Homo sapiens: one gene and its partners. The protein of the gene in region 6 interacts with the protein of the main gene of each other region in a pairwise test. Each region holds a gene or a part of one and is shown on either strand. Other genes may lie near its edges. The genes, in order: ALKBH3, FAM118A, NTF4, STAU1, ZNF426, GLRX3 and METAP1.

Region 1 (3,500 bases), on a different chromosome or scaffold from region 6:
GAAATGATGGGAGGGAATTAAACTACTTTTCTTGCCTTCTGTTTATTGCATTCCATGTGGTTTGCTTATTACATGCCCTGGTTATAACTTGGCTGATTTTGCCCTTTCTTTTCTGTTTTTCCATGCGGCTGTCATTTTGTGTGTAATGCGACTGTCTTGCCCTTTTCTTGGTCTGTGGATTGCAGTGGCACCCTGTGCTGCGCACACTAAAGAACCGCATTGAAGAGAACACTGGCCACACCTTCAACTCCTTACTCTGCAATCTTTATCGCAATGAGAAGGACAGCGTGGACTGGCACAGTGATGATGAACCCTCACTAGGGAGGTGCCCCATTATTGCTTCACTAAGTTTTGGTGCCACACGCACATTTGAGATGAGAAAGAAGCCACCACCAGTGAGTATTCTCTTTTTCTTATGCTCTTCCTGCCTCTTATTAGTCTGTGGAAAAAGTAGAACTCCTAAAAGCTTCTACTTTCAGATTTCGAGCATGGGAATACACATTTTGTTGATGAAACATTTTCAAGTGACTACTTCCCCATGGTTAACTTTTGACTTCCAAAGTGCTCCTTCATTCATTTACAAGTCCAACAAGAATTGGCTGCCTTATGCTAGGTGCTGGCGGCTCATTTCATTGATGATAAACTCCCTGTCCTCCTGGAGATACAGTCTAGTTGGGGTAGATAAATATTGCCTATTACTCAAATAATTGCAATTGTGATCAATGCTGTGAAGGAAAGCCTTAGAAGAATGACTCAAGCTAGTGGGAGGCTAAGGAAGAGGAAGGAGGCTAAGGAGGACGTCCCTGAAGAAACCTTTATTTTAAGTGTTCTTCATGGTAATATGGCCACTTTTCTGAAAGGGAGCATTCACATATGTTTGTTCCTTCTTAGCCTTCTCCTGAAATACAGGTGAATCTAACTCTTTCAGAGAGAGGAAACTCAAGCCAGATTATCAGAGATGGTGATCTGTCCACATTCAGGTAGAAAAACAGTGACCAAAAAATTAATAACGATATAATAACTTCAGTTTCCACCCCAGCGCTTACCTCAATTATGTGACATTTGAGGAATACTAGGGTTATTAATTTTTTAAAAAATCAAAACTGTAGTCCCTTACGACTAAGAAAGATAGTAATGCCAAGAAAAGAGCCAATTATTTTATTTTCAGTGTTTGTGTCTCTTCCTAACCAGCATTCCTGATCATTCAGCTTATAATGTTAAACCAGACCCAGTCGGTGTGGAAGGCCAACCAACAGGCTGTTTTTTTGTTTGCTTGTTTTTTAGAGAGGGAGTCTCACTCTGTCGCCCAGGCTGGAGTGCAAGTGGCACGATCTCGGCTCACTGCAACCTCTGCCTCCCCAGTTCAAGCGATTCACTTGCGTTAGCCTCCCGAGTAGCTGGGATTACAGGCGTGTGCCAGGACCCCTGGCTAATTTTTGTATTTTTAGGAGAGATGGGGTTTTGCCATGTTGGCCAGGCTGTTCTCAAACTCCTGACCTCAGGTGATTCGCCCACCTCGGCCTCCCAAAGTGCTGGGATTACAGGCATGAGCCACTGCACCTGGCCCAGGCTGATTTTTGAATAGACCTAAGCCAGACCACATCATTATTAGTTCTTGTGTCAGTTCTTCGTCAGATATACTTCCATAAGAATACAGTTAACAGACTGAGTGTTTTCCTGGTGTGTATTGGGTTTCCATGCATGGTATTTTTAAAGCATATTGTGTGATTTTGCATATATGCCATTAAGTACCTTTTGTTGGTATAATTTCCATTGATTAGGCTTTCTTTGGTTATGTTTACATAAAAAGTTTGATCATTGTTAGGGGATTGGTAGTTGCCGGTGTTTTTTTAAGTGAACTTGCTCTCTAAGCCTTCAGTTACATTGGCAAGCAGCCTTCTCATATACCAAGGAGTACCACTTGAGAATCAGACAAACCAGCTTTTGCTATATTTGTTTTAGATATGATTATACTTCTGTACACAGCTTTCACTCAGTTAAATACCAAGTTCACATGTGTGAAAAATTCATCCTGCCCTTAGTAAGACTCCTGTTGCATAAATAGTAGAGAGACACTGTATCAGTCTCATTATTTAAGTTCAGACCCTCTTCTCAAGCCGGATGTATGGAACCTCAGCTTGTTGCCAGGAGTGGTCCTGAGACCGGGGGCCGTAGCAGTGAATGAGTAAGATGAAATTGTCTTTCTCCTCCTGGAGCTCATCTAGCATATGCTAGCACTGCGCCTTCCTCCTAGAGTTATCCTTCTGGCCTCCTGATTGGCAAATAAGCTATAGTATATATAGCCTTTGGTATAATAATGGTTTTTAGTTCTTCACACTTACTTTCTTTGTTGCTCAGTATTTAAGTATTCAGTTACTGTTTCTTTACACACATATATTCACCACCACCATGCCCCTTTTTAAAAATTTGGGCCTATTTATAGATTTGAAGCTTAAGAATTCCCTAAGTATGCTTTTTGGATAAATCATTTTACTGTACAAGCAATTTCCAAATATTATGCATTCACAATATTCTGGTGCCCAGAAATACCCCGTTTCTTCTCCCCTCCAGAGAGCTGAATTTCTTCATTTTCTCATATAAAGATATGACATATGGTGATCAAGAGCTATTTCTTGGTAGTACACATCAGTTATGTTATAGGGTAACATGTAGATGGAGAGCATAACTACTACATACATTGTTCCTGTGGGCAAGCATTTGGAACAGCGCTTTATCCTGCCGTGCCCCATGCTGTAGCTTTCTCTTCTCCTCAGCCTTCTTGGAGCCTATTTTGATGAACATGAATGATAATACAGGCCATGAAATACTCAGAAGTGGTAAAGTCCACATAATTGTCTGCCAGTGGCAAGGGAATCTGCGCTATGACGATGGTAGCTGATTTGATTAAAATACTGATCCAATAAGTAAGAAAATTTGCCTGAGATTTTAACAAAGTTGCCTGAGGAAAGGGATTTGGGAAGAAATATAAACATGTTGGTACTTCAGGTTGTTGACTGTAGTAAGTTTTGGCTTCTGGCCTAGTCTTAACTATGATTGAATTTCATGCAGTTTTTGTATATCATCTCAATTCTGGCTTTTGTTTAAGATTGGGAAATTGAATATTAATATGTTTGAAATTATAATCACACATGAGTAAAAAGTGACCTTTTTTCCCCAGAACCTGTAAAGTCCATTTTTGTGTAAACAGGATACAAGTTTAAACTTTTGAAGATTCCTTCAGGTCTCACTAACGGATTTCCAAAAACCTGGGGCTCTACAAATGTAGCTAAACTCGAAGTGCAGAACCCTTTCTTTGAGTTGATGGCCTTGGAAATATACCTTAAAGTGCATCATCTTTATCTTATAAATAATCCTTTTTTCCAAAGGATTGAAAGGAAGCGATTATTGCACATTTTTGTCTACTTTTCTTTATAAACTCAGGTGATGAGAACATGACTCATGATTCATACAGCCCAAGGTAAAGCATAATTTAAAAAGTA
Region 2 (3,500 bases), on a different chromosome or scaffold from region 6:
CTTGGTTAAGGAAACCTGAAACAGGAATAAATGTGTCCAGCTATACATGTGTGCACAGCTGTAAACTTCAAAGTTACTGTATTTTTTATTTTTAGAGACAGGGTCTTCCTCCGACGTCCAGACTGGAATAAGTGGCCTGATCACAGCTTACTGCAGTCTCTAACTCCTGGGCTCAAGCAATCCCCCCACCTGAGCCTCCAGAGTAGCTGGTATCACAGATGTCCACCACCAAACCCAGCTCTTTTTTTTTTTTTTTTTTGGAAACAGAGTCTTGCTCTGTCACCCAGGCTGGAGTGCAGTGGTGCGATCTTGGCTCACTGCAAGCTCTGCCTCCCGGGTTCATGCCATTCTCCTGCCTCAGCCTCCTGAGTAGCTGGGACTACAGGTGCCCGCCACCATGCCCAGCTAATTTTTTGTATTTTTAGTAGAGACGGGGTTTCACCGTGTTAGCCAGGATGGTCTCGATCTCCTGACCTCGTGATCCACCCACCTCAGCCTCCCAAAGTGCTGGGATTACAGGCGTGAGCTATCGCGCCCGCTCCAAACCCAGCTAATTTTTAAAAACATTTTTGTAGAGACCAGGTCTCCCTATGTTGCCCAGGTTGGTCTTAAACTCCTGGGCTCAAGCAATCCTCCTGCCTTGGCCTCCCAAAAAACTGGGATGACAGGCGTGAGCCACGGTGCCCAGCCTGAAGTTACTTTAAAGTTCTAGTTACAGACTGTCACTAGGACACCAATTACTCCAATCTTCTAATTTTAAATTACAGAGGCAGTTTTAAAAAATAATAACGAAGACTGGTGAATTTTAGGGGTATGTGGGTTCCATCAAAAAAAGACAGAGAGAAACAACTGGAAGAGCCCTGTGAGTTTTGTACTTGAAAAGTGAAGACAGGCCGGGCGCGGTGGCTCTCGCCTGTAATCCCAGCACTTCAGGAGGCCAAGGCAGGTGGGTCACCTGAGGTCAGGAGTTCGAGACCAGCCTGACCAACATGGTGAAACCCTATCTCTACTAAAAATACAAAATTAGCCAGGCATGGTGGCGCATGCCTGTAATGCCAGCTACTCGGAAGGCTGAGGCAGAATCCCTTGAACCTAGGAGGCGGAGGTTGTGGTGAGCCAAGATGGTGCCATTGCACTCCAGCCTGGGCAACAAGAGCAAAACTCCGTCTCAAAAAAAAAAAAGAAAAAAGAAAGAAAAAGGAAAGTGAAGCCAGATCCCATACCTGGGCTTTGCTGTTTGCAGATCTGAGTGGCAAGGTCTTGCACATATCCTGGAAAGTGGTCAAAACAGTCCCCGTAGGATACAACTTTGATTCCGTGCAGAAGCATATCTGCCTGATGCTTAAAGAAATGGTCTTCATTCTCCTTCAGCACAAGCATGTAGTGCTCCAAATCCACCTTATTCGGCACGGAGTAAAGAAAGAGGGCCTGGAATATCTGATCACGAAGGGTCTCCCCACAGCCCACAAACAGAAAGGACTTGGTGCGGTATAAGTTCTGGAGGACTTCCTAGAAAAGGCCAATGAAGAAATTGAGTGCTCATTTGAAAGACAGCAAGAGCTTACAACTAACCAAGTCACATGTGTGTGCTTTTACATCACTGCTCCCTGACAGGCGTTCCCAGGGCCACGCTGAGGAGCACAGTTAGAAGGACAGTATCCTTCCCGACATGGCACTCAGGCCACCCCCCAGCAGCAGCCTGTGGCAGCAAAGACCAAAGCTGGGCTGAGCCTGCCTGTCCCCAGCTAAGCCAGGGTAGCTGGTCTTTGGCCGAGGCGGGTGGCAGTGCCCACACCCCTAACAGCAAGGCCAGCCCATCGCCCACCCCACACACTCACCAGTGCAGTCACCCAACTCAAATCTTCTCAAATTGGGTACGATTTTAAATTATTAAAACACAAAATGAGGACAGTAAATGTTTTCAGTTCAGAATTATGCACATAAAACACCCTGAAATTAATGTTGATCTCAGTGGGCCATATGTGGGAATTCTTGCAGGGGTGGTTTTGCGAATGAGGGCAAGAGAGCTGAGGAGGGGATCAGTGACCATGACTGACGGGGTCGGGTGGGCACAGGGAAAGCAGATTGCATGGGGTCACTCAGGCAGGCAGGAGGGAATCGCCAATGCAGCTAACCAAATATCTCAGAGAGGCTCAGTCTCAGCCCAGGTATTTCTTATCACCAAGCAGTATTAATGATGCAACTGAAAAGCATCTGCCCAGTCACTCATCTGCTGACACCTGTCACGGAATGACACCGGCCCAGGGATGAGCACTGAGGAACAGGGCGCCTAGCTGTGTGCTTGAGGGTAAATCCACAGACACCGAGTTTCTCAGTGCTTACCAGAAGCACAGCTTTTCCACACTGCATTCTAGGGCATCAGGAAGACCTCACAGCCGGGAGTAGGGGCACACACCTGCAGTCCCAGCTACTCGGGAGACTAAGGCAGGAGGATCCTTGGGCCCAGGAGTTCAAGGAAGCAGTGAGCTTTGATCATGCCACTGCACTTCAGCCTGGGCCACAGAGCAAGACCCTGTCTATTTAAGAAGAAGAAAAATAAAACCTCACAGAGAATGAAGTGTTATTTACTTTTATTTATTTATTTTTTTAGAAATGAGGTATCGCTCTGTTGCCCAGGCTGGAGTGCAGTGGTGCGATCCCAGTTCACCATAGCCTCTCCCTCCTGGACTCAAGCAATCCTCCTGCCTTGGCCTGCCAAAGCACTGAGATTACAGGCATGAGCCACTATACCAGGCCAAAAATGAAGCTTTACAACTACAGGAAGGAGAGCAGAGAATTTCAGACCAGAAGAAGCCTGGAAGAACAAGGACAACATTCTAGACTGCACGGGGCCTATATGTCATGCTGAGGAGTTTCACTATATACCTGGGCAGGTGAGAACCACCAAATGGCCAGGGCTCCTAGAGAGGGTACAGGCAGATCTCTGCTTTGAAAGGAATCATGAATTCCTTCCTCCAACAAATGTTCGCCAAGCATCTACTCAACATGGAGGCACCATGCGGGACCCCAGAGACACAGACGAGGACAAGAGACGTGGCCCCTCCCTCAGCAACTGTGTGCAGGGCCGACCTGAAGGGCACGGACGCCTGGAGCCTGGGAAGCCACTCAACTGCAGCCAATGGCCAGTGGCCACCAGTAATCCCTGAGAGGACGCACCGATGCTAATTAGGACGGGCCGTACCATGACTTCTGCGTCTTGAGTGACGTCTTTATACCCCGATGGGTCCAGCACCACCCCGCAGGGGTCCGTGTAGAGGCCGTGAATGTGGAGGACGCCGTACTTCATGTGCCCTCTTGCCCATTCAAGGACCTACCAAACATCAAGCCAAGAAAAAGAAACACATCCTCAAACTGTTTCAAACAGAGAGAAGAAAATACTGAAAATGGATTCATAGTTTTTAAACCTATCTTGGAAAGAATCATCGAGAGATGCTTCACTTTACACTTATACCTTCAAAACCTAAGAGAAACTTGGTTGT
Region 3 (4,228 bases), on a different chromosome or scaffold from region 6:
GAAAGAGGGAGGCTGGGATTAGAGAAGGGGGTAAAAACTTCAGTGGGGAAAGAAGTTGGGAACCCCAGGGGAGGCTTGCCTGCCAGGATTGTGGGGAAGCCCTTGTTCTAGAAGTTTGGGGGACCCTATATCTAGGGCTTGCGTAATGCGCAACTTGTAGATTAATAATAAATATTCAACTACTACAGGCCAGGCACTGTGCCCCACACCTCTAATCCCAGCACTCTGGGAGGCTGAGGCAGGTGGATGACTTGAGGTCAGGAGTTCCAGAGCAGCCTGGCCAACATGGTGAAACCTCATCTCTACCAAAAATACCAAAATTAACCGGGCATAGTGCTGCACGCCTGTAATCCCAGCTACTCAGTAGGCTGAGGCAGGAGAATCACTTGAACCCAGGAGGCCGAGGTTGCAGTGAGCAGAGAGTGCACCACTCCCCTGCCACCTGGGCGACAAGAGTGAGACTCTGTCTCAAAAGTAAAAATAAGGCCAGGCATGGTGGCTCACACCTGTAATCCCGGCACTTTGGGAGGCCGAGATGGGCGGCTCACCTGAGGTGAGGAGTTCCAGACCAGCTTGGTCAACATGGTGAAACCCCTTCTCTACTAAAAATACAGAATTACCCGGGTGTGGTGGCGCATGTCTGTAATCCCAGTTACTTGGGAGGCTGAGGCAGGGCAATCACTTGAACCCAGGAGGTGGAGGTTGTGGTGGGCTGAGATTGAACCATTGCACTCCAGCCTGGGCAACAAGAGCGAAACTCCGTCTTAAAAAACAATAATAATAATAAAATAAAAATAAAAATAATTCAACTACTATTACTTAACAGTAACAGATGTTGAAATACAGGCTCAGAGAAGTTAATGATTTGTGCCCGGTCACACAGCCAGCAAATGGCAGAGATGGGACTTCACCTCTGGGCAACTGCACTCTGCCGTCCTTCCTGTGCAACTCTGAGGAACCGACAGTCTTGCATCTTGGAGGATGTTCCAAACAATTTTTTTTTTTTGAGACAGAATCTCACTCTGTTGGCCAGGCTGGAGTACAGTGGCACAATCCTGGCTCACTGCAATGTCTGCCTCCTGGGTTCAAGTGATTCTCCTGCCTCAGCCTTCTGAGTAGGTGGGATTACAAGCACCTGCCACTGTGCCCAGCTAATTTTTGTATTTTTAATAGAGATGGGGTTTCACCATGTTGGCCAGACTGGTCTTGAACTCCCAACCTCAAGCAATAGTCGTGTCCTGGCCTCCCAAAGTGCTGGGATTACAAGCATAAGCCACCATGCCTGGTCCCAAACAAAATTTTTTTTTTTTTTTTTTTGAGATGGAATCTCCCTCTGTCGCCCAGGCTGGAGTGCAGTGGCACGATCTTGGCTCACTGCAAGCTCCGCCTCCCAAGTTCATGGCATTCTCCTGCCTCAGCCTCCTGAGTAGCTGGGACTACAGACTCAAGCCACCACGCCTGGCCACATTCCACAATTTAGAGAAAGGTCACAACCTGGAATCCTAGGGAGACCCCAGTTCACCTCAAAACTGCCACTAAGGAGGTAAAACGCTGCCCCTCTGAGGCAGGCTTCAGTTTCCCTGTGTGTGAAATTGACCTGGCGCTGGGAGAGGCTGGTGGAGGCGCGGATTTTGCAGTTTCCCTACAACATTCTGGAAGCCTGTGGTTCTGGGAAAGGGTGGCGTGGAGAAGACTGGGAAACAGTCAGTAGTTACCAGACCTGTCAGCACCTCCTCCGCCTCGGAGCTCTGGGGCTGGGAGTCCCCAGGCTTCGGGGGGCCCCTGTGGAGGACACAGGTGGCCCCCTCCTTCCTGACATCTCAGGAGAGGGAGGGGGCAACCACCTAGGGGAAGAAAAGAATAGACAGGTTATAGAGGCAGGTGGGGAAGGGGCCAAATCCCTGAACAACCCCTTCCCAGAGTTCCTCTTCAAGTGCAGGGTACCCAAGAGTCAAGGCCCCGCCCCCTTTCCAGAGGCCCCTTTTCTACCCAGGTGATGGCTCCTGGCTGGGATGGGAAGCAGATGGAGGGAGGGGAAGGGAGAATAGGGGAAGGGAGAGGCAGTGGATGAAGGAGGCTGGAAGAGATTACATCCCCCTCGGCCCATTCATCTCCCAGATGGGGCGGAACTGGCCTGGACACCCGGGTCCCTGAGGGCCCACACTCAAGAAGCCCTGGTTCCCCAAGCTGCTTCCTGGAATGTTCCCTCCTCACAGGACAGGCCAGGGCCCGCCCAAGACTTCTGCACATACCTGGAGTGGCTGCCTGCCCTGGCTCCTCGGTACAGGAAAGGGGAAGGGTGGAGAGTGAAAGGAGCCCAGGCTGACCCAACCAGGACCGCCTTCTCCCTCAGACCGAGTAGTGCAGACCCCAGGGCCTCCACCTTCAGACCCAGGAGTTCAGATCCCCAGCGCCCTCCTCCCTCAGACCCAGGAGTAGTCCAGGCCCCCAGCGCCCTCCTCTCTCAGACCCAGAAGTCCAGGCCCCCAGCACCCTTCTCCCTCAGACCCAGGAGGAGTCCAGGCCCAGGCCCCCAGCACCCTTCTCCCTCAGACCCTGGAGTCCAGGTCCCCAGCGCCCTCCTCCTTCAGACCCAGGAGTCCATGCCCCCAGCGCCCTTCTCCCTCAGACCCAGGAATCCAGGCCCCCAGTGCCCTCCTCTCTCAGACCCAGGAGTTCTGGAATTCAGGCCCCTCCTTCTCGGATACTAAGAAATGCAGACTCCGGGTTCCTCATCCTCCAGATTTGGGTTGGGGGTTCCGGACTCCGAGACCCCTCAGGGGAAACCGGCTGCATATCTGGGACACTTCCCTCTTGCCTCAGTTTCCTCCGCCAAGCCCCGCCCCGGTCGGCCCCGCCCCCGTCCCTCCCCACCCGAGGGCAGGGCGACCAGGACGCCGGAATCCCGAGGGAGGAGGAGTGGAGATCTTACCTGGGGCGCCCTCTTCGGCTCCCGCGGCTGCCCTCCGCCCGGCAGCAGCTCCTCCTCCTGCTCGCTGGCTGCAGGGACGCTCGCTGGCCCGCCGGGTGCTAGCTGCTCACGCTCCGCAGGGCCCGGGTCGGGGGCGGGGGCGGGGCGGCGCCGGGCGGCAGAGGAGGGGCCGGGGGATCCTGCCTTGCACTCGCGTGCCGGGACCTTGGAAGCCAGGCCTGGCTCGTTCAACGCGGCCGCCTTGGTCACAGGAGTCCCAGTTTCCAGCTGCCTCCTCCTTTGGACCTAGCAGTCCAGGCCCCCAGCCCCTCCTCCCTTCAGACCCAGGAGTCCAGGCATCCGGCCCCTCCTCCCTCAGACCCAGGACTTGCGACCCCAGCCACCTCTCCCCCCAGCCCCAGGCGCCTGAGTACTAAGCCCACAGTTCCCCCCACCACCTCCCAACCCCGCCCCGTCTCAGACTCAGGAGTCCAGCCCCCAGCCTCCTCCTCCATTAGCCCCAGGAGTCTGGGCCTGAGATTCCTTTGCCGTCTTTTGCCAATTGCGTGTCAATCCCGGGGCAGATTCCCACCCTCTGCTCTCCTCCCCACTTCCCAGGAGCTCCACGCCAGACATTAACCAGCTGGGCTTGGGCAGTGATAAGGCCCCAGGCCCGGGGAGACAGTGGATGTGGGGGCTCCCGCATACTCCTCTCCCCTGGAATTTCCTGGCTGGGGACCGGGGAGAAGGTCTTGTCCTGAGCTCAGATAAGAGACGTGCAAGGTATCATAGGACCAGAGATAGACAGATGTGTCTTAAGAACAATCAGCTACCTTGAGAAATGGTGCGCGGTGACATGAAGGGAGAGATAGGGAGAAGACATGGAAAAGTGGGGAGAGACCAAAAGAAAGAGGGGGACCGAGACTAGAGAGAGTGGGGGAGGGCAGGAGCCCAGAGAGAAGACAGAGGCCCAGAGAGCGTGAGGGCAGACCCCCCCACCCCCCCGAGAAGGGGACAGAGCCCCTGAGAGACCCTGAGAAAGACAGGGATGGGACCGGAGCCGGAGTGTCTCAGGACAGTCATGAGGGCAGCGGGGCTCCTCACCCCACCACACCTCTACCCTGAGACTCCGCTCCCCTCCGCCTGCGCTATTTTCAGAAGGAAAACTGACACCTGCCTCGAGGGTCATCCCACACCCCCTCAGCCTAAATATAGCATGGCAAGGTGGCAGGAGGGTGTCCCCGGTTAGGGTGTTTCCTGCTCCTCACCATCCCAGCCAAGGCAACACACAAGGCCGCTCCAGTTATTTATTGGGGG
Region 4 (3,500 bases), on a different chromosome or scaffold from region 6:
CCAAAATTAACACCCTTACGGGGAAAATGTTATTACCTAAGAATTTTGTCTAACACAACATCACCTTTCTAAGAAGTAACAAAGGACACTCTGAATGTCCTACAAGATTCTGAAATGAAAAACCCTAAAGCCAAGTCTAAGATCTATACTGGTGGTATCTGGGGTCCCAGTCAGTTATTAACTGGCCATGACTGATGCTGTTTCTGTCAATATGACTGGCAGACATGAATGAATCAGGCCTGATTTCAAGTTTATCTCACCAGGACCATTCAGTGATGGGAAAGAAGAAGGTCAGCCATGGCTTTTGCTGAGGTCCTGCTTACCACTTCTGGCAGACACGAATTTTTCTTTTTACGTTCCTTTTTTGTTGTTGTTGAGACAGGGTCTGTCGCCCAGGCTGAGTGCAGTGGCATGATCACAGCTCACTGCAGCCTTGACCTTCCAAGGCTCAATCCTCCCATCTCAGCCTTGTAGCTCGGGCTACAGGTACAAGCCACCATACCTGGCTGATATTTTAATTTTTTGTAGAGACAGGGTTTCATCATGTTGCTCAGACTGGTCTTGAACTCCTGGATTCAAGGCCTCAGCCTCCCAAATTACAAGTTTGAGCCACCACACCTGGCCGTGAATTTTTCAACAGGGGATTATTTTCATCTGATGTTTAACTCACATAGGAAAAAAGAAATCCCAAACCTAAACTTTGGATTTGGCCTGTCTCTACTGTCACACTGTCTTATTTTGCCAGAAAAATCAAAGCCTATTCCACAATTAACGAAAGCCTAACAGTTATAAATCTTTCACACAGGCTTCATTTCTAGAGTGCAAATCACACTTAGTAATTTCAGTCCTAATTACCCTTCATCCTCATCCTACAAATAGAGAGGAGCAAGCTGCCCTCCACAAAGCGTCCCCAGACCACAAAGATACTGACACAATCAACGATCTAACCCAGAGCCTCCTGGGGCCAGTGGACATGCGAGGCCCCTCTGAGCACATTATGGTCCAAATGGATGAGACACTCCTCAGCAGGACTCCTTGAACTGTCAGGCAGATAAAGCCTTGCCTTGAAGCCTGCCCCTGGAGGTGCCCCAGTTCCCTAGGGTGAGGCGAGAGACCATCTTGCAATCAGAGAGCCCACAGCACTCACCTTCTCCTCTGACTTGAGTGCGGGTTTGGTGGGCTGCGCCTGCGGGACTTTGAAACCAAGGATCTCCAGCATGTTCTCGGCTGCATTGCGCTTGGCCACCTTCTTGTTGGTGCCCGTTCCTTCTGCAGTGTGGTTTCCAACCTTCACCTGCACAAAGAAGTCAAAACACAGACCAGTGCTTAAACCTTCAGAATAACAACCAGGCAGGAATTGGTGTGTCAGCAAAATAACCAACTATGGTCAGAAGCAAGATAACAGCAGTGCCCCGAACCTGGCCTCCTTGTCTCTGAGAGCTAATTATTAAATAGTCAGGAGTTTGGGAAGCTGGCTGTTAAACACAGCCAGTATTAAACATTTAATTATATAAGCTGATAATTATTTTAACAGAGGTAATTTTTGACTGCATTTTATAATCATCTGTGTTCTGAGGGTCTGCCCAGCTATTGCATTTGTACAATGGAAACAGTCTGTGATGGTGAACTACTGTACATCTATTCCCAGCATTGCCATTGGAAGTATCACTTTGAGAGCTTGAAATCAGCCATGGTGGGACTATTTATACCACAGAAATATACAAATGCTACGTATCAAAGATCATAAGCTGTTTATTGTCTAACTCTAAACCTACAATGATGAAAAGGTTAATAAAGCAGGTTAATCTTAAAAGCATGAGAAGTCTGCAGCCATTACATTGTAACTAGCACAAAAAACTGAAATATCTTCCCGTCTTTGAAAATTATCTAATTTTGCAGAGAAGCCACTCATATCATTTACAAATGAGTGATGTTACATGTCTTCATTGTTTCACTTTTTCTTTTTTCTTTTTTGGGATAGACAGGGTCTCACTTCTTCACCCAGGATGGAGTGCAATGGCATGATCTCAGCTCACTGCAACCTCCACTTCCCAGGTTCAAGCGATTCTCCTGCCTCAGCCACCCGAGTAGCTGGGATTACAGGCGTGTGCCACCATGCCTGGCTAACTTTTCTATTTTTAGCAGAAATGAGGGTTCACCATGTTGGTCAGGCTGGTCTCGAACCCCTGACCTCAAGTGATCCGTCATGCTGGGATTACAGGCGTAAGCCATCAAGCCCAGCCTGTTTTACTTTCATCTTACCTATTAACATAAATAAAAAACATCAACCAGCCGGGCGTGGTGGCTCACGCCTGTAATCCCAGCACTTTGGGAGGCTGAGGTGGGTGGATCACCTGAGGTCAGGAGTTCGAGACCAGTCTGGCCAACATGGTGAAACCCCATCTCTACTAAAAATACAAAAAGTAGCTGGGCGTGATGGTGGGCACCCGTGAATCCCAGCTACTCGGGAGGCTGAGGCAGGAGAATCACTTGAACCTGGGAGGCAGAGGTTGCAGTGAGCCGAGATCACACCACTGCCCTGCAGCCTGGACAACAGAGCAAGTTGACTCCATTCCCCTCTACCCCAAAAAAAATGTATCTCAACCAGTATTCATGCTACAACCAAAATCTCAAATCTACAGTATGTATTTGTCAGTGACATGAGCAACACCTTTGCTGAACTGGATAGTAATAAACCATTATGTGCTGTCTGATTTTATAACACTATCGTTGGTAACTGTCACACTGAAATATGTATGAAATTTACAATAAAGTGTATATTATTTATAAATTGTACTACACATCCTTTCTGTCAGTAAAATTTATAAAACACACATATATGTCAGTATAATTTATAACACACATCCTTTGTGTCAGTAAAATTTATAACACACATGTATATAACACCCATGTATATATCTATAACATACATATTCAGCTCATTCCACCAAACCACCCTCCCCGAAGAAGAGCTGGTTGTTAAACATGTTCCAGCACATCACTACTTACAACCCCCTTCCAAGTTGATTGTAATAACAGGCACCTGGCTGCTAAAACCAAAAGCCCAGGTCACAAGACTCAGAGAGTCAAAGAAACCATTCCCTGGCCTGGGACTAAATTCCAACCTGGCCATCTACCAGCCATTTCATCTTGGGCAAACTACTGATCCTCTCAGCAAACTGCAACTTCCTTTTGTGGAATGAAAGGATCATTCTTTTCCTACCTTCTGACTGCATAGGTAAAATATACGAGGTCAACTTTCTAAGTTATAAATTGCTATACAAGAGATAAGGATTCTGTCTTACATCAGAAAGCACTTAAATTCAAATCACAATTAAGTTAAGCTGCCTATGTGAAATGACCACTTAGCTTTGAACTTAATCAGCTAAGTACAAAGAAATGTTCCATACTAATCTGAAGTGTCACCCAATCTAAGGAAGAGGTAACCCTAGATTCCAGACTCCATAAGAATTAGGAGGAAGAGGAACAGATCTCTTGAT
Region 5 (3,500 bases), on a different chromosome or scaffold from region 6:
CAGTGTAGATACATTGGACAAAAGGATGATTCACACCCCAGGCAGGATGACATAAGGGTTCATCATACTACTGAGAATGGTGAGAAATTTAAAACTTATGTTTTGTTTATTTCTGGAAATTTTTCTTTTTTTCTTTTTTTTTTTTTTTTTTTTGTGGGGTGGGGGTCAGTGGCCAGGGTCTCACTCTATCACCCAGGCTGGAGTACAGTGGTGCAATCACATCTCACCACAGCCTTGACCTCCTAGTCTCAATCCATCCTCACAGCTCAGTCTCCTGAGTTACTGGGACAGCAGGTGCGTCCCACCACCCTCGGCTAATTTTTGTATTTTTTGTAGAAACAAGGTTCTCGGTATGTTGCCCAGGCTGGTCTTGAACTCCTGGGCTCAATGATTCACCCACCTAGGCCTCCCAATGTGTGGGGATTACAGGTGTGGGCCACCATGCCTGGCCGAGTTTCCCATTTAATATTTTTGGACCATGGTTGAATGCAGATAACTGAAACCGTGAAAAGTGAAATCACAGACAAGGGGGGACTGCTCTGTAAATAAAAGCGTGTGGGAAGTTAAATATTTCCTAACTTTCTCTAAACCTTGGGGTTTAGAGTGCAGGGAGAAAGTACATGTTAAAAAGTTTCCTAATTATGCTTTCAAACATACTGAACTTCTCATCAACCAGAGTTGTTCTTCATGAACACTCACCTTGGAGAACTCCTCCCTGAACTGTCCTTGACTCTTCTTGTTCCAACCAAGAGATTAGACTGGGTTTGATGATCTGACCTCCTGAGCACAGAGAAATACATTAATGGAAGAGGCTCATAAAAAAGATTACAAACCTTTCTGTGATTCAGGAACTACAGATCTAATGAAAGTGGTGAAGCTATTTCAAAAGGGCGAAAAATGCAAATAACAACTCTGACTGTGCCCCAAACAGTCTGGTTACTTCTGTCCCCTAAACCGAAATTCAGGCTTATGTACACATTTAAAAAGCACTGAGACTTTTATTCAAACACAAAATAATGGCCGAGTGTGGTGGCTCATGCCTGTAATCCCAGCACTTTGGGAGGCTGAGGCAGGTGGATCACTTGAGGTCAGGAGTTCGAGACCAGCCTGGCCAACATGGTGAAACCCCATCTCTTCTAAAAATACAAAAAAAAAAAAAAAATAGCTGGGTGTGGTGGCGCATGCCAGTAATCCCAGCTATTCGGGAGGCTGAGGCCCAAGAATCGCTTGAACCCAGGAGGCAGAGATTGCAGTGAGCTGAGATCATGCCAGTGCACTCCAGCCTGCGTGACAGAGTGAAACTGTCTCAAAACAAGAACAACAACAAATAAGGAATAAGGAAGTATAACAGAGATCTTCATTCTTCTGGGGAAACAACTACCCCAGTGTTTTTTAAAACATTATTGTGCATCAGAGTCATCCAGAGAACTTGTTCAAACACAGATTATTGGGCTTCAACTCCAGGTTTCTGGGTGGAGAAGGAAAATGTACATTTCTAACAGGCAGATGGTGTTGCTATTAATCTTGGACCACATTTTCAGAATGGTCACAGTAGATTAAAATCTATTTAGGACAGGGACTATGTCTCTGTTATTTCTCTTTGCATTCAGAGTTGACATTGCCAATGCTGCAAAACAGTAAGTACAAAACATATCAGTTCCATAGAAGGCTGCAAGGGATGAGGCCAGTCTTACCTACTGTGGCCAGGTTCTTGTAGTTCTCCAGCATCACGTCACTGTAGAGGCTTCTCTGAGTTGAGTCCAGTAAAGTCCACTCCTCCTGGGTGAAGTCCACAGCCACATCGTCAAAGGTCACTGAATCCTAAAGCATCACACACATGCTGGTTGGAGCCAAGTAACAAGCCCATCAGCGTTCGCTGGAGGATGAGGAAGGGGGACCCAATGCCTATGCAGGATTCCAAGGGCTGCAGTGACCAGCCCCAGGTTTTAAGGGTCCTAGAAACTCCTCGCACCCTAAACATACTCACTGTCATCTCCTCCACTCATAGTGCATTAATGGCACTTCTTGAATATGAATTTATCTCAGCACAACCAGACTAGGAGATCTCTTTTTTTTTTGAAATGGACTCTTACTCTGTTGCCCAGGCTGGAGTGCACTGGTGCAATCTTGGCTCACTGCAACCTCCACCTCCCAGGTTCAAGCAACTCTCCTGCTTCAGCCTCCTGAGTAGCTGAAATTACAGGCACACGCCACCATGCCCGGCTAATTTTTTGTATTTTTAGTAGAGATAGGGTTTCAGCATACTGGCTAGGTTGGTCTCGAACTCCTGACCTCATGATCCGCCCCCTTCAGCCTCCCAAAGTGCTGGGATTACAGGCATGAGCCACTGTGCCCGCCCAAGATCTCATCTTATTTCCATCTATTTGAGCGCATTGCTCAGCACATTCCAGACATCTGATCAATGCTGATAAACAACTTAAAGGACACTTTTTTTTTTAATTTTTTTGAGACGGAGTCTTGCTGTGTTGCCCAGGCTAGAGTGCAGTGGTGCAATCACAGCTCACTGCAGCCTCAACCTCCAGGGCTGAAGTGATCCTCCCACTTCAGCCTCCAAAGTAGCTGGGAGTCCAGTCATGTACCACTTTGCCCAGCTAATTTTTAAATTTTTTGTAGAGACGGGGTCTCACTATGTTGCTCAGGCTGATCTTGAACTCCTGTACTCAAGCAATCTGCCTGCCTCAGCCTCCTAAAGTGCTGGGATTATGGGTGTAAGCCACCATGCCCGGCCTGGGATGATTTCCAAGTTAGCACCTCCCTATATGGGTGGCCCCAACCCTTGGGGAAATTCAAATGGGGATTCAGTCCTTGAGTGACACTTTATTTGCTTTAAGAAGCCTGGAGACCGGAGCTTGCAGTGAGCCGAGAGCATAGCACTGCACTCCAGCCTGGCAACACAGCGAGACTCCCTCTCAAAAAAAAAAAAAAAAAAAGAAGTCTGGAGACAACTCTGCCTAGAGGGAAATGTGTCTACCTGGTGGATGCAAGTATGTCACTATGTATAAGAATACAGCTGCTTTTTACCTGATAACAATCTGTTAGGCAGTCAGCCACTATTCTTCCTGCTGGTGTCTTTTCTTCATGAAGGCAAACTGGGTCCCCAGAAAGATAATGTCCTGTAAGAAAATGAAGGCAAGAGAACCCCGAGCTGACCATAATCCCCACATCCACCTACCTAGAGGTCATTACCTCCTAGTATGAAATTCCCATATATTCCTGCAAAATCAGGAAAACACACATAAGGCCAGTTGCAGTGGCTCACATCTGTAATCCTAGTGCTCTGGGAGGTTGAGGTGGAAGGATTACTTTAGGCGAGAAGTTTGAGATCAGCCTGGGCAACACGGTGAGACCCCGTCTCTACAAAAAAATTTTAAAATGAGCCTGGTGTGGTAACACACACCTGTAGTCCCATCTCCTTGGGGAAGCTGAGGCAAGAAGATTGCTTAAGCCTAGGAGTTCGAGACTACCCTGGACAACACAGT
Region 6 (3,500 bases):
CCTGGACATAATGGAATCTCTGGCTGGTTCTGGTTTGATGAATGACTTTTAGGAAGCAGGTGCACACCTGTGCTTCCAGGCACCCATGGGTGTCATCGTAGTTCCCCAAATACCTCATTTATACTTAGTAATAGATTCATTCCAGCCAATGTGGGGGCAGTCTTTTTTGTATTATGTTAGACTGACCTGATTTGACTTTGAGATGTTGCAGTGTTTTCTCAGTGTGTTTCTGAGAAAAGAAAAAAATTATGTATTTCTAAAATTGAGATGCAGTGCAGGCAATTGGCAATGAGGGTTTCTTTTTTTACATCTCCGGTAATACTGTTGTCCCCTTTAAAAATCTGCTATAACAATGTCATTATTATGGAATGCTGCATGTATTCTAAATAACTTTTTAAACTTTAGAATTCTCAGAAAATCGACCGATTAGATGGTGCACATGCCCCAGAGTTGACCAAAAAAGTTCAGCGACATGCATCTAGTGGCTCCTTCCTACCCAGCGCTAATGAACATCTTAAAGAAGATCTCAACCTTCGCTTGAAGAAATTGACTCATGCTGCCCCCTGCATGCTGTTTATGAAAGGAACTCCTCAAGAACCACGCTGTGGTAAGAAGCTGCCTTTAACATAATATAAACAAAATGGGTGCTTTCCCAGAATGGGGTATGGTTGAGATGGGCATCCTGTTTCCAAGGATGCTATACCATACATCTTATACTTGTGTTCACATACTTTTAGAAAATCAAAAAGGTTATAATTCCCAATGACACTATATAAGAATTAGTTTGCATTATGGACTCAGCATGTTGGAACCAAAAGGGGTCTCAGAACTCATCTAATTCAGATTTTTGTTTTATACTGAAGTCCTCAGACTCAAAGATAGAGGTGACTTGCCCAAGGTCACCTGGTAAGCAGAGTTAGGATTAGGTTCCAACTACCATATTGCTGTCTCTTTTGCCTGTTTATCTACTTTTGCTGTTAACAGTTATTTTTTCTTTCTTGGCAGCCTCCTGTTTTTCACCTAGTTCAGATTCAGCAATTAAAAAATTTGCGGAATTTTTCAGTGTTTTTGTGTCCAGCCTGTGTGCTTTTGCCTCCCCTGTGTCATCACTGTCTAATGATTCTCTTCCTGCATTGCTGTCATTTCCAGTTTATAGCTGCTGGTAATGGAAAGATTCCGAATTCTTGGCTTGTAGTCACTCTTATTTTCTGTACACATGGATGCTTATAATTTTGTCCTTAAGTAAGTTTTAGAGTTATTTGACCCCTCTGGTAGTGGGTTTATGTTATTTTCTTTTTACTGTGCCTAGTACAACATTAGTATGCTGCATAATTGAGCATTTAATGCCATTTGATGATGCTGTTGAGACTCTAAGAGTATTTGTATCAACTACACAGGAGGGACTTTATTAAGATAGGGGCAGTAACATTGAGTATGCTCTTGATATGATTACAGCATGTCCAGAGTGACTTTATAAAGATAGCCAAGCTTCTAGTGTGAATTTGATTCTAAATTCTTCCCTGTAGGGTTATTAAATTACATATTAGCTTATGATAATGTCTAGTTTTAAAAATAAAGTTTCATGATGAATTCTTATTTTTTCGAGATGGAATTTCGCTCTTGTTGCCCAGGTTGGAGTGCAATGGCACGATCTCAGTGCGACGGAACCTCTGTCTACTAGGGGTCAAGCGATTCTCCTGTCTCAGCCTCCCGAGTAGCTGGGATTACAGGTGTCCACCACCATGCCCGGCTAATTTTTTTGTATTTTTAGTAGAGATAGGGTTTGTCCATGTTGGTCAGGCTGGTGTCAAACTCCTGACCTCAGGTGATCCGCCTGCCTTGGCCTCCCAAAGTGCTGCTGGGATTATAGGCGTGAGCCACCATGAATTCTGTCTTAAAAGTATCTCTTAGTTCTGCCTAAAAAATTTCCCTGCCAGTATTTATGTGTCAGATAATGCCTGCTATTTGTGTATTGCAAAGCTAACTTAGTCTGTACTAAACTAAAGGTAGCAACAGATAGTCTCTGTTGCGTTTGTTATTTTGTTTTTAACGGGGGTTGCAAATGGTTCACATTCACCTTCTTCCATGAAACATGAAAATTATTTCTTGTACTTTGTGCGGTGGCCACTAAATGGGAACTTACCACTTCAGTTGAATGGATTGTATTCAGCACCTTCATTCAGATCTCAGGTACAGTAGAACTGGCTGTGAAATGTGGGTGAAGCACACCTACAGTGAAATCTCTACAGTATTCTCTCCTTTGGGGTTGAACAGCAGCAGTCTCAGTCTTTTCTGAATGATAAACCTAATGAAAAGGCAGGTGGCAACACTGAAGCTTGGGGAAGGAGTGCTCAGAGGAGAAGGATGTCCTGGGAAGTGTGCTGCACTGGGTGTCATGCCAGGCGAGCCTCAGGCCCACCCCTGCGGCCTTAGCAACTTTGGGGACAAGTCAGGTACCCTCCTTGTGCCTTTAATTCCTTCTAGTGCTGTTGGGAACAAGATTGGCTGTTGGAGCCAATCTTGGAGGGCCTTTTCAGTGTAGATATTGTATGATTATTCAAGTAAATTAGAGAGAAACTTAGACATTTTAATTTTTCTGCTTACCTTTTACTTTATTAAACTGAATTTAAAATATACTGCTAGCATTTTTATATTTATATTAAACTTATTTAAATTATGTTTATTATAATGGAGTGAGATTTGGAAGACTGTACAAATAACAGAATAAAAAAGAAGCTTTGAAATATTTCAGGGCTGGGCGTGGTGGCTCATGCCTGTAATCCCAGCACATTGGGAGGCTGAGGTGGGCGGATCGCTTGAGATCAGGAGTTCGAGACCAGCCTGGCCAACATGGCGAAACCCCGTCTCTACTAAAAATACAAAAATTAGCTGGGCATGGTGGAGTCCTGTAATTCCAGCCACTTGGGAGGCTGAGGCAGGAGAATTGCTTGAACCTGGGAGGCAGAGGTTGCAGTGAGCCGAGATCGAGCCACTGCACTCCAGTATGGGTGACAGAGTGAAACTCTGTCTCAAAACAAAACAAAACACATTTCAGAGCCATCTGAAAACGTAGTATTATAGTTATTTAATTAATAAAAGACAATAAATATTTTGAGATACATATGGTTGAATGGTTACAGTTTCTTCTTTTAAAGTACTTCTATATAATTTTTATAACTACATTTTCAGTGGGTTTTTCTGTTTCCTGATATTTTCTGTTTCATGTCTTTCTGTCACATATAGTAAATAGATCATTTAAGAATGTTGCTGTTCTTTAATAAAATACTTAGGATTAATTGGAAAATATTTTTAAACTGTTTTCTTATGGGAACATAAGTCACCTCGACCCTCTGCTGTTCCTTTCTGAGCCTGGTTAGTGGAGCATTGTTTTTGCTCTTCTTCTGGCATTTTAGAGAAGGGCGTAGGCAAAGCTCCCTTTATAAAAGCACTGGCCATCTCATCTTGTGAACACGCACGTGGCTGCTCTTTCCTTATTTTGC
Region 7 (3,500 bases), on a different chromosome or scaffold from region 6:
GGCATTCCCAGTTACTCTGTCACACCACCTTGTTTATTCCTTTATGACCTTTTGTGCAATCTATGATTACCTCACCTGTTAGAAAAATGAGGATTTTTTTTTTTTTTGAGACGGAGTTTCGCTTTTGTTGCCCAGGCTGGAGTGCAATGGTGCGATCTCGACTCACCGCAACCTCCGCCTCCCAGGTTCAAGCAGTTCTCCTGCCTCAGCCTCGCAAGTAGATGGAATTACAGGCATGCACCACCACGCTCAGCTAATTTTGTATTTTTAGCAGAGATGGGGTTTCTCCATGTTGAGGCTGGTCTCGAACTGCTGACCTCAGGTGATCCACCCTCCTTGGCCTCCCAAAGTGCTGGGATTACAGGCGTGAGCCACCATGCCCGGCCGAGAATGTCTGTTTTTTAGTCGGAAGGTGAACTTCATGAATGATCCTATCTTGTTCACTGCCCTGTTCTCATTTCCCAGTATGATGCTCTGTATGCAGTAGGTGGCCATTAAATGTTTGAATTAATGGATAAATGCATCAAAATAGAGAGGTATACTGCTGTGTTTGAATCACAGCTCCATCATTTACTAGTTATGTGACTTGGGCAAATAACCTCTCTTTTTCAGCTGTATCTTTTTAAAATGGGGCTATTAATAATACCTATCTCAGGGTTTTGATGAAGACTAAATCCAAAGTATGTAAAGCTCTTAGCATATTAGTAAACTTAATGAATGTTAGCTCTTTTTATTGTTATACTGTTTTATGTTTAGGAAAGTAGAAATATTTTATCTAGGATGCTTAATTTTTTTTTTTTTTTTTTTTGAGACCGAGTCTTGCTCTGTCACCCAGGCTGGAGTGCAGTGGTGTGATCTCGGCTCACTGCAACCTCTGCCTCCCGGGTTCAAGCGATTCTGCTGCTTCAGCCTCCCCAGTAGCTGAGATTACAGGTGCGCACCACCACGCCTGGCTAATTTTTTTGTATTTTTAGTAGAGACGGGCTTTCACCGTGTTAGCTAGGATGGTCTGTAACTCCTGACCTCGTGATCCGCCTACCTCAGCCTCCCAAAGTGCTAGGATTACAGGCATGAGCCACTGTGCCAGCCTAGGATGTTTGATTTTAAGGAAAGCTTTTGTTCTTTAGAGGAGTACAACCAGTTTTACTTGAAAATTGAGTTTTCCAAGAGTTCTTGATGTTCGATTGTGTTTATTAATAGAAGTTTTCCTTCCTATTTAATAGTTTATGTATGTCTTTTTCATTTGTGTGTAAGAATTTTTTGAGGACAGAGGGTGTGTTTTACTCATTTTTGTATTTTCCAAAGTGCCTTGCCCACAGTAGGCCCTCATTTCCTTACATGAAAGAAAAGACATCAGTGGGCTTGCAATGGAAAACAAAGAAATTCTGTATTTACATTATCCTTTGTAAACACTGAATAGTATAGTATATTGTTGATACACTCATTTATTTGCTTATGGTTGAATTTAGTTACTTTTCAGTTTTTTAGCTGATGTTTAACTTTGTGAATAGCATAGGGCAGTTGCTGTCTCCTCTGGTTAGAGGATCAGCTGGGAGGGACCTGAGTGATCTGTAACTATTTATATTTATAAGGCATAAAAGGTAGTAAGCATAGTGTAAGTGGAAGGAGACCTGGATTTTGCTCCCATGACCTTGGGTAAGTCCCCTCCTTTGCTTAATGAAGCATCCTCTTCAATGGAGTTGAGCAGAAGGTGACTAAGAGAGCATCCAGGGTGCCTAGTAGAGCATATAGTAAATTTGGGCCTTATTGTGCATATAACCTCATATGTAATGTTATTAAAATCAGTACCAAGGAAGGCTTAAAAATCTTTGAGGGGAAATGTTACTTGTTTATGAACATTTTTGACAAATCCAATAATAGGTTCTTTAAAAGAAGTGGTAGGTAACATGATTAACTGAATCCAGGAAGAAAGTCTTTTTTTTTTTTTTTTTTAAATAACAAGACAGTTTTTCTTCTCTCTCTCTCTTTTTTTTTTTTTGAGTTGGGATCTTACTCTGTCAACCCAAGGTTGAAGTGCAGTGGCGTGATCTTGGTTCACTGCAACCTTCACCTCCCAGGCTCAAGTGATCCTCCTACCTCAGCCTCCCAGGTAGCTGGGAACACCAGTTTGAGCCACCACACCTGGCTAATTTTTTGTGTTTTTGGTAGAGACGGGGTTTCACCGTGTTGCCCAGGCTGGTCTTGAATTTCTGAGTTCCACTTTGCCTCAGCCTCCCAAAGTGTTGTCTATACAGGTGTGAGCCACTGCACCTGGCTGGAAGAAAGTCTTGTTGAGCATCTTGTAGGTTGGAGTTAGAAGGTAGAGAAGGAATTGCCGTTATAACATGCAGTATCTTTGAAATGCAACCCTGCCCTCTGAAACTTTCTCTGTCAGTAACAACATTCCTGCCAGTGCAGGGTGTTTCTGGAATTCATCTTCATTAAAGGAGATATTATCATGTTGTGCGTTTTTATTTATAGGGATTTTCTTTAAATTCCTCATGTCACTTCAGACCACCCTTAAACACTCCTGTAAGTTAGCTGAGTTTAGGTACAAATGCCATAGCTTCTTATAAGCAAAAAGATAGGATGAGGTAAAGAGAAATTATGAGTCTTTTTAAAACAAAACAAAAATAATTTCATAAATTGTTTATTGTAGAAAAATAGAAAATATGTGTGAAGATAATCAATTACCCAGAGATGATTTCTATGAAATTTTGGTGTGTATTCTTAAGAACATATTTGCGTATTTATTCATGTGCACACAGTTGTGTATGTTTTTACAAAAATGGCAACCATAATACATATAATCTTAGAGAATTTTCTCATCCTTAATGTCTTAACCAGTGTTTTGGTAGTGTCATGTCATGGCTACATTTACATGATCCTTTATAAAGACTGTTATGGGTGTACTGTCATTTGTTTATTCACTTATAGTTGAATTTAATTTCTTTTCAATTTTTTACCTTCTGTTTACTCTTCAATAAATATTCCTCGAAAATTTAAATCATTTTGACTTACTCAGGAACGTATAATAATGGTACAGGATTTGGTACATGAACCCAGAATTGAACTATCCTAAGCTAATTCTATATCCTTTTCCAGAACAGTGGTTCTCACAGTGTAGTTAGTGGATTATTGTTGGTTTGAGGGCCTTCTGGTCATCTATGAAGTTTTGGCATGAAATATACCTACATTACAGTAGAATTTGTAAAACAACAACAACAAAAAAACGAGCATCATTTGGTTGGTAGGCAATCAAAAGTTATACCAGTCTTTGAGTTACCTTTTTGGAAATTGAAGTGCTATAGGAAATGTGATCTTATACTGTTCACTTAGTTTGTGGATTGAAATCAAGTTTTAGTCATGGTTTTTTAAGGTGAATCTTTTTCATGTTTAGCATATTTGCAAAATTTTAGTTAAGTTTTAGTAAATTTCATAGGAGTGACAGACATAAGTGCATAGCTAAGCTCATTCCAGCTCTAGATATTCGGAAGAAA

Evidence for each region.
Region 1: the proteins of GLRX3 (region 6) and ALKBH3 interact in binary tests that used the Homo sapiens proteins (3 or more experiments, as listed by UniProt).
Region 2: the proteins of GLRX3 (region 6) and FAM118A interact in binary tests that used the Homo sapiens proteins (3 or more experiments, as listed by UniProt).
Region 3: the proteins of GLRX3 (region 6) and NTF4 interact in binary tests that used the Homo sapiens proteins (3 or more experiments, as listed by UniProt).
Region 4: the proteins of GLRX3 (region 6) and STAU1 interact in binary tests that used the Homo sapiens proteins (3 or more experiments, as listed by UniProt).
Region 5: the proteins of GLRX3 (region 6) and ZNF426 interact in binary tests that used the Homo sapiens proteins (3 or more experiments, as listed by UniProt).
Region 7: the proteins of GLRX3 (region 6) and METAP1 interact in binary tests that used the Homo sapiens proteins (3 or more experiments, as listed by UniProt).

What each region holds. Positions count from the first base shown.
Region 1 is NC_000011.10:43,901,331-43,904,830, forward strand, and holds part of ALKBH3 (alpha-ketoglutarate-dependent dioxygenase alkB homolog 3), read left to right. Parts: intron 1-185; coding exon 186-395; intron 396-3,500. UniProt on the Homo sapiens protein: Dioxygenase that mediates demethylation of DNA and RNA containing 1-methyladenosine (m1A). Repairs alkylated DNA containing 1-methyladenosine (m1A) and 3-methylcytosine (m3C) by oxidative demethylation. Has a strong preference for single-stranded DNA.
Region 2 is NC_000022.11:45,330,434-45,333,933, reverse strand, and holds part of FAM118A (protein FAM118A), read right to left. Parts: intron 3,332-3,500; coding exon 3,203-3,331; coding exon of another isoform or gene 3,178-3,202; intron 1,510-3,177; coding exon 1,224-1,509; intron 1-1,223.
Region 3 is NC_000019.10:49,062,019-49,066,246, forward strand, and holds the start of NTF4 (neurotrophin-4 preproprotein), read right to left. Parts: upstream 2,801-4,228; 5' UTR 1,721-2,800; exon of another isoform or gene 1,598-1,720; intron 733-1,597; exon of another isoform or gene 639-732; coding exon of another isoform or gene 621-638; intron 1-620. UniProt on the Homo sapiens protein: Target-derived survival factor for peripheral sensory sympathetic neurons. May promote ameloblast differentiation and subsequent reduction in proliferation of ameloblasts.
Region 4 is NC_000020.11:49,118,835-49,122,334, forward strand, and holds part of STAU1 (double-stranded RNA-binding protein Staufen homolog 1), read right to left. Parts: intron 1,295-3,500; coding exon 1,148-1,294; intron 1-1,147. UniProt on the Homo sapiens protein: Binds double-stranded RNA (regardless of the sequence) and tubulin.
Region 5 is NC_000019.10:9,532,146-9,535,645, forward strand, and holds part of ZNF426 (zinc finger protein 426), read right to left. Parts: intron 3,135-3,500; coding exon 3,043-3,134; intron 1,822-3,042; coding exon 1,695-1,821; intron 781-1,694; coding exon 700-780; intron 1-699. UniProt on the Homo sapiens protein: May be involved in transcriptional regulation.
Region 6 is NC_000010.11:130,160,391-130,163,890, forward strand, and holds part of GLRX3 (glutaredoxin-3), read left to right. Parts: intron 1-405; coding exon 406-607; intron 608-3,500. UniProt on the Homo sapiens protein: Together with BOLA2, acts as a cytosolic iron-sulfur (Fe-S) cluster assembly factor that facilitates [2Fe-2S] cluster insertion into a subset of cytosolic proteins.
Region 7 is NC_000004.12:98,998,721-99,002,220, forward strand, and holds part of METAP1 (methionine aminopeptidase 1), read left to right. Parts: intron 1-3,500. UniProt on the Homo sapiens protein: Cotranslationally removes the N-terminal methionine from nascent proteins. The N-terminal methionine is often cleaved when the second residue in the primary sequence is small and uncharged (Met-Ala-, Cys, Gly, Pro, Ser, Thr, or Val).